2 linked regions of the Homo sapiens genome follow. The protein of the gene in region 1 interacts with the protein of each later gene in a pairwise test. Each region holds a gene or a part of one and is shown on either strand. Other genes may lie near its edges.

Region 1 (3,816 bases):
CAAGGGGATAAAAACTACTGATAAAAATAACGAAGTCTATTATATCAATCTTAGCTTTTGGTTGCTTTGACAGGGATGGGAAGGAGCAAGGGCTGGCTTTTCTTTTCAAATTTAAAAAAATTCTAGAGTTGATAGAATCGACAATCCTATAAACCGATACCAATTAAGATTTTCCTAGGCCCTAAGCTACTTCCTGGTAGTAACTGGCTCTTTAAAGGAAGTGTTTATTGTTGGCTGCTGCAGTGAACTCGCTTGTGACTTAGGAAAGTGCATTAACCCTTTTACCAGGGAGGCCTGCCCTTCATTTATAAATGATGTTTCCTAGGAATTAGAAATACCTACACTACTTAATACTACCATGTGTTATGAACTTTAAAAAACACTCATTGCCTTCCTAACAGTACTGCTTTCATGGTTAAAAAAAAAAAAAGGAACTTCTCTGTATGTATTTTATCTTTGTTCTTCTCGTCAAATTAAGCAAAAGTCTAGCTTAAACTCCTTGAAGTCATGGCAGATTTTTAAATTCATAGTAAAGACAGAAAGTCCCAAATTTTTAAAAAGGAAAGACAAACTTAATGCTAAAATTTGAGGGACAGGGTTATTTAAAAAGTCTACTTATAGATCTATGGCTTAAAAAAATATATTTTTGCATCCACAAATAGCAATTTAATACTGTTTCCAAACTGGACACTGGAGAATATTCCTGTGAAGCCCGCAATTCTGTTGGATATCGCAGGTGTCCTGGGAAACGAATGCAAGTAGGTAAGCATGAAATATTGGGAGGAACAAATGGTTTGCAATTCGACTGTGAAGTACAGCAGTTGGGGGTACAAGGAGCAAGGAGCAGGAAATGTCTGAGTGACTTGAAGAATAAACAGGAGAGAATGACTAAAATTAACTTGATATGATGTGTTGCAAAGAAGCAAAGATGCTGTTTTTAAGCCATCTCCCAAATAAGCCAAAAATACTTAGTATTGTATTTAACAACTTTTTTTAGTTTTTTAAATAATCGTTTTTAAAATACATTCTTCTAAGTAGTCTTTCTCTCAAATAAAAGCTAAGTATCTTGTAGTCTAAATTGTTGAAGGTCCAGAAGTTTGAATTTCTGATATTTTTAAAATTCAGGAATGTATATCATTGATATTATTCACCAAATTAATTCAGGTGTTGACATTTATAGTCAACGTAGCACTTATTTAAGTAATCAGAAAGTATCCCTTTCAATGCTGCTTTGAAATTATCATTTAAAAAAATTCATCACAACATGTTTAAAAATTAAGGCATTGTTTTCTTTGTTTCCTTTATTCACATACGTCCCCATGGGTTTTTTTTGTTGTTGTTTTGTTTTTGTTTTTGCTTTTTTGAGACAGGGTCTTTGTCTGTTGCCCAGGCTGGAGTGCAGTGTCGTGATCTCGGCTCACTGCAACCTCTGCCTCCCAGGTTCATGCAATTCTCCTGCCTCAGCCTCCCAAGTAGCTGGGATTACAGGCATGCCCACCGCACCCAGCTAATTTTGGTATTTTTAGTAGAGACAGGGTTTCACCGTGTTGGTCAGGCTGCTCTCGAACTCCTGACCTCAGGTGATCCGCCCACCTTGGCCTCCCAAAGTGCTGGGATTACAGGTGTGAGCCACCGTACCCGGCCTGTCCTCATGGTTTTTACCATTACCTTGTCCTACCAGCACTATTTCTGTTTATTTTTCCTTCCATTTAAATGGTCCTGTTTAATTTAAACATCTACCTTTGCCTTCTCTTAAGGAATCATATCCAGGAAGTCATGGTTTTGATGTATTAGTTACTTTTTCTTAGCACACAATAAATACATAACGAATAAAATTTAAATGTTTGTTTCTCCACTAGGACCACTTTAATTTGAACATGATTCTCACATATCTACTCTAAGTACAAGTTAGCTTAAAAGTTAAAATTAGTTTGTTTAACGGTCATCCATTGATCCGAGGTGTTTTGTGTCCTTGGTTGGGACTTACATCTTTTGAAATACATACAAATTCATAAATTCATTTTTTTGGTTTTCTTTGTGAATTATAACTATATTCACATGTAACCAAAATTAGAATATGTTAACTGTCCTAAAGAAATTTTTTCAAAGTGCAGCAAGTAAAGCATGGATTTGTTGGTTGTTTATGGCTGCCTCACTATAAAACTCCAGCAGACTCCACCCACACTGGGCCTTTCAGCAGTTTAGTTCCTTTTCTTTCAGTAAAAAAAATGGTACCTTCCTTTTATAAAGACTTTTTTTTCAAAAAAAAAAAAACACAAAATATTTTCATACTTAATGTTACATTTTCTCTTCACTGAGGCATAATATGGCTGTATGACTTGCTCAACATCACAGAAAATGGTGAACAGGATGTAAGAAGTTAACTTACTCCTTATCTATTACTCTTCTGTCTCCCATTTCACTGAAGAAAAATAACATAAAATTCATACTACAACTTAGCACTTACAGAACAAGACAATTTTTTGTCAGTAGTTTCTTTTAGGGTGAATCCTTCCTTCATAGATGTCAAATTCATTGACAAACTACAAGACAGTTTTTTTTTTTTGTCAGATAATAGCCCTTACTTTGAATGCTTCATAGATGTCAGATTTAATGACTACTACAAAGTAAATAGAAGGTACACTTTGGTTCTCAGGAATTTCACTTACTGATTTGACTTTGCCTAAGATTATGATTACTGTAGATTTTTTTCTCTCTCTGCTCTTTTTAATCCAAGTAAATAAAAAGCTGAATCTTATTGACCTCTCAATACCCAAGCAAACTGAGTTTATACCAAGCAATAATTAATGTTTTCTACTCTGGTCAAATTACTTAACCTTTCAAAAGACTTATCAAGTTTTCTTTTTTAAAAAAATCAATTAATATTTTGGAGGTATTTAAGAAAATTAATAACACACTTGGCATTAGGAAAGAATTTCGAGACCAGAAGTTTTTATGATAAGCAGATTCACTTAAACAGTATCTCTAAAAAGATCATTTCCAAAATGTACATTGCTTTAAAATATTTAAATTATTTTTGAGAAAATGCTATGTAATATTTTCTCTAGGTTATTTAATCATAGGCTAATTAAAACTTGCTTTGTAAAATGGGAACTCTTTGAAGAATTGCTCCTTTAATAAATACATGGGAAGTATCTAAATGGCAGAAGAGTGTGGCTCATAAAATCCTCATGGACAAGATGGAGAAATATGGTCCAAACAATATTTTGGTGGATCCACACACAGTTGAATCCCATGCTCAGAGAATGTTAATAAATTGTGTTGTATGACAGGAGGTGTCTGCTAGCCTGTTACATAGTTGTTTCCTAAACAAATCCATGTTCATCATGTTATTAATGACTTGAATGAGAGTATTTTTAATAAAATTCTCAATTTGCAGAAATGTTAAGCTTGGAAGGTTAATAATGTAATTATTAGGCAACAGAATCAATCTGAGAAGAAGAAAAAAACTTCACAGTAGTTATTTCCAAACTTGGGTTCAAAAAATCCAGTTGCATTACATTAGAGGACGGATGCCTTAACAGTCATAGGAAAAGCCTCAGAGAATTTAATTCATTTTTCATAAATGGGATGACAGTTTAGTTGCATATATGTATATGACTGTGTATGTGTGTATACACCCATATACATATAATTGTATATCTACACCCATATAATTCAAGAAGGAACGTATTTCTTACACTTAGTTTTACAGAATAACAATGACATGTGCTTTTTTTTAAGAGACAGTCTTGCTCTGTCACCCAGACTGGAGAGAAGTAGTGCAATCATAGTTCACTATAATCTGAAACTCCT
Region 2 (3,816 bases), on another chromosome or scaffold:
CCTCTCCCCTCAGTCCAGGCTACCAGGGCGAGGCAGAGCTGTGGAAGGCACGAGTGACCCCATTCAGCAGATGAGGACGGCCAGCCTACTGACCAGGCCCAGGTCTCAGCTGAGGGAGTGGCAGGGCTGGACTCAAACCCGGGTCTCTGTGCTGGTGACTGCTCATCACCCGGGCCCTCCGGAGAGCAGAGTCTGTGCCTCTCCCACAGGCAGAGCCAGGCTGTCCCAGGAGGGGCGGAACCTTCTCCTTTCCCCAGGCACTCGCCAGGGAGCCACTTCCATGGGCCCCTGCAGGGTCTAGAGTCCCCGCTTGCATTCCTCCTCCTTCTGAACAAAGAGGGTGGTGAGTGGGAGCCCCAGAGAGGCCCCGTAATAATCGAATCGGGACATCCGTCGCTGTGGGAGGCAGGTGGGGGTTGACAATATGGAGACAGAGACAGCCAGACGAAGCTGGGAGAGGAGGGCAGAGACAGGGACAGAAGGTCCGGGCTGAGGGCCCAGGTCGTGGCTGGGATCAGGGCTCAGAGCGCCACAGGAATCAACGCCCATTGTGCTATTAGGATTGGGGTCAGTGTGTGACCAGGGTCAGGGCTCAGAGTGGGACAGGGATCGAGGTTCATCACATTACTGGGATCATGGCTCAGTGTGTGACCAAGATGAGGGTTCAGCTTTGTTTGAGATCAGGGTCAGACCCTTAGTGCGGGGAATCAGAGCATGCTTTGCTAGCTCCCTCTCCTCTCCGGTCTGGCCTCTGGGGTGTCCAGCACATTCTGCCCATCCCCCCAGCTCCAGAGACCGCAGAGCCCCCACATCCCTAGCCAGGACCCCAGCACCGCAGCGTTGCTGGTGAGCCTGCTGGGCTGGCCCTGGGGAGTTTTCTGGGACAGCAGAATTCCCAGGGGCCAGCATCACCCTGGGACTCACTCCCACAGGAAACGTTCTGTGTTGTTTATGATTTGTCTCTGATTGGGACACTAATATAGGCCCCGTGCAGACAAATTGGAAAAGCAAAAGGCACATAGAAAGGAATCCCAAAATACTTTTTTGGCCATGCAGTCCCTCAGTCCAGCTGCAAAGCCGCCTCGACCTTTTCTGAGAGCGTTTCATCCACAGCAGGGGAGGGACGCATCTCTTTCGGGGGGACCTTCTGGGGCTCCTGAAGCCCACAGCCCTGAGACGCCAGGTTCCCAGCCCCCATGTGCCCAGCCTCCTCTCCTCCCCTGGCTGCCTGCTGTGCCCCCAAATCCCGTCTCTGGTGGCACACCTGGGCTGAGGGAGGACAGACCTATTCATCCAACAAATGCACCCATCAATGCCCGCGTGTCAGGGCCTGGAGATAGAGAGCTTGCTTGCAGTCGGGGGGAGCTGGGAGCTGAGCCTGGGCCCTTGTGTGGTGGGGGTGGCAGGAGGGGCTGGGCACAGGCCTGGGCAGCACTTGACTCCTCCCAGCAGCCTCCAGGGTAGCACGCACCCAGGGCTGGGGTCCCAGAGGCAGAGGGCATGCTGGGTGACCTCATGCAGGCACTGACCTCTCTGACTCTGAGGAAGAAGGTGGCCGCCGACTGGAGGGACCTGGCCCTCTGAAAGCAAGAGTTCTTTTGCTGCCCTGAGCCAGGCCAGGGGCTGTTTGAAGGCAGGGCTCATTGTTCCCCAGGGGTGGGATGGGGCCACGCACTGGTCAGAGGGAGTGGCGGGGCACAGCCTGTTTACAGCAGGGGCCACCAGGAGGGGAAGGGGTAAGTGTCCTCCCTTCTCCAGCAGGTGGGGGAGGGGCGCTGTGCAGAAGAAACGGCCCACGAGCCTCCCCACCCTGCTGGCCCCAAAGACTTCTCCTTTCTCCTGAAAAAGCCAGAAATGCCCTTATTTGGAGGGTCAGCCCAGCTGTAGGGTGGGGGTAGGGCCGTTAACCCTTCATTTATAAATAGAGGGATAAATCACTGCCGAGTTAAACACGCCAGGGCAGGAACATAAACAGAGTGGGTGGCTCCGGCACAGCCCCTCGCCCGCCCCCCACCCTGGCCCCCCTGCCCAGGCCAGACGGGAGCTCGGTGTTTATTTGACTCACACTCTGGCTCCAGGCTTCAGCCCCAACCAGCCACCCCACAGGGGCCTCTGTCTCCTTTTCTGTAGTTTGGGGGGATCATAGGGGTGCCCGCCTCTCAGGGCCAGTAGGAGCCTGGGGTGCCCAGTGAGACTGGTCCTTGGCTCCCATGCAGCCCCACTGGACAGCCTAATTCCCTTTGTAAAGGTCCCTCATGAGGACCCCCATCCAGGGCATTGACCTGATGCTGGCCTAGGAGGAGGGGAGAACAGATGGGTGGTCCCGGAGGATGGGGGCCATGACGGTGGGTGTGGGGACAGGGGAGTGGGCAGGGCAGTCAGAGGTCCCCACCATGAACAAGGCTCTGTCCCAGCAGAACTGGGTCATCAGCCACCAACTCTGCTGGCGCTGCCGTGCTGACCCGCTTGCTTAGTCACCCCAGCAGCAACGCGATCCCAGTGACATGGATTAGGAAGCAGGTAGAGAGGTTAAGTGGCCTACCCGAGCAAGCACACTAGTCAGTGGCACAGCTGGGGCTGGAGCCAGGCCCTGGAACTGCACACTGGAGCCCCGTGGTCTTGCCCTTATCAGCTCTCCATCCCGAGGACAGCCCTGCACCGCACGTGTTTCCGCCTCCCCCTCGTGCCAGGACGGTCGCAGAAACCTCCGTATTTTGTCGAGTCTCCACGCTGGCAAGTGCCAGTCCTGGAATTTGAACACGCGTCTGACTCTGAAAGCCTGTGCCTTTTCTGCTGCTGTCCGAGGCTCCCTCTGGGTAGAGCCAAGGGAGCAGGCATTTGAGGCCCCAGCCAGGCGAGGGCATGGAGAAGGGGGATGCTGGGCGTGCAGGGGCAGACGGGCCAGCTGAGTTCTGGGCCTCAGGGCAGGGCTTAAGGCCAGGCTGGCGCCTGGGGTGACCTGGTCTCCTTGCTTCCAGGCCTGGGGTGTGCTGGCTGCCGTCATGCCCTCTGTGTCTCCAGCGGGGCCCTCGGCCGGGGCAGTCCCCAATGCCACCGCAGTGACAACAGTGCGGACCAATGCCAGCGGGCTGGAGGTGCCCCTGTTCCACCTGTTTGCCCGGCTGGACGAGGAGCTGCATGGCACCTTCCCAGGCCTGTGGCTGGCGCTGATGGCGGTGCACGGAGCCATCTTCCTGGCAGGGCTGGTGCTCAACGGGCTGGCGCTGTACGTCTTCTGCTGCCGCACCCGGGCCAAGACACCCTCAGTCATCTACACCATCAACCTGGTGGTGACCGATCTACTGGTAGGGCTGTCCCTGCCCACGCGCTTCGCTGTGTACTACGGCGCCAGGGGCTGCCTGCGCTGTGCCTTCCCGCACGTCCTCGGTTACTTCCTCAACATGCACTGCTCCATCCTCTTCCTCACCTGCATCTGCGTGGACCGCTACCTGGCCATCGTGCGGCCCGAAGGCTCCCGCCGCTGCCGCCAGCCTGCCTGTGCCAGGGCCGTGTGCGCCTTCGTGTGGCTGGCCGCCGGTGCCGTCACCCTGTCGGTGCTGGGCGTGACAGGCAGCCGGCCCTGCTGCCGTGTCTTTGCGCTGACTGTCCTGGAGTTCCTGCTGCCCCTGCTGGTCATCAGCGTGTTTACCGGCCGCATCATGTGTGCACTGTCGCGGCCGGGTCTGCTCCACCAGGGTCGCCAGCGCCGCGTGCGGGCCATGCAGCTCCTGCTCACGGTGCTCATCATCTTTCTCGTCTGCTTCACGCCCTTCCACGCCCGCCAAGTGGCCGTGGCGCTGTGGCCCGACATGCCAC

Evidence for each region.
Region 2: the proteins of JAM2 (region 1) and GPR20 interact in a two-hybrid assay, tested with the Homo sapiens proteins (one large-scale study listed by BioGRID and IntAct).

What each region holds. Positions count from the first base shown.
Region 1 is NC_000021.9:25,701,508-25,705,323, forward strand, and holds part of JAM2 (junctional adhesion molecule B isoform 1 precursor), read left to right. Parts: intron 1-662; coding exon 663-762; intron 763-3,816. UniProt on the Homo sapiens protein: Junctional adhesion protein that mediates heterotypic cell-cell interactions with its cognate receptor JAM3 to regulate different cellular processes. Plays a role in homing and mobilization of hematopoietic stem and progenitor cells within the bone marrow.
Region 2 is NC_000008.11:141,357,110-141,360,925, reverse strand, and holds part of GPR20 (G-protein coupled receptor 20), read left to right. Parts: intron 1-2,978; 5' UTR 2,979-3,002; coding exon 3,003-3,816. UniProt on the Homo sapiens protein: Orphan receptor with constitutive G(i) signaling activity that activate cyclic AMP.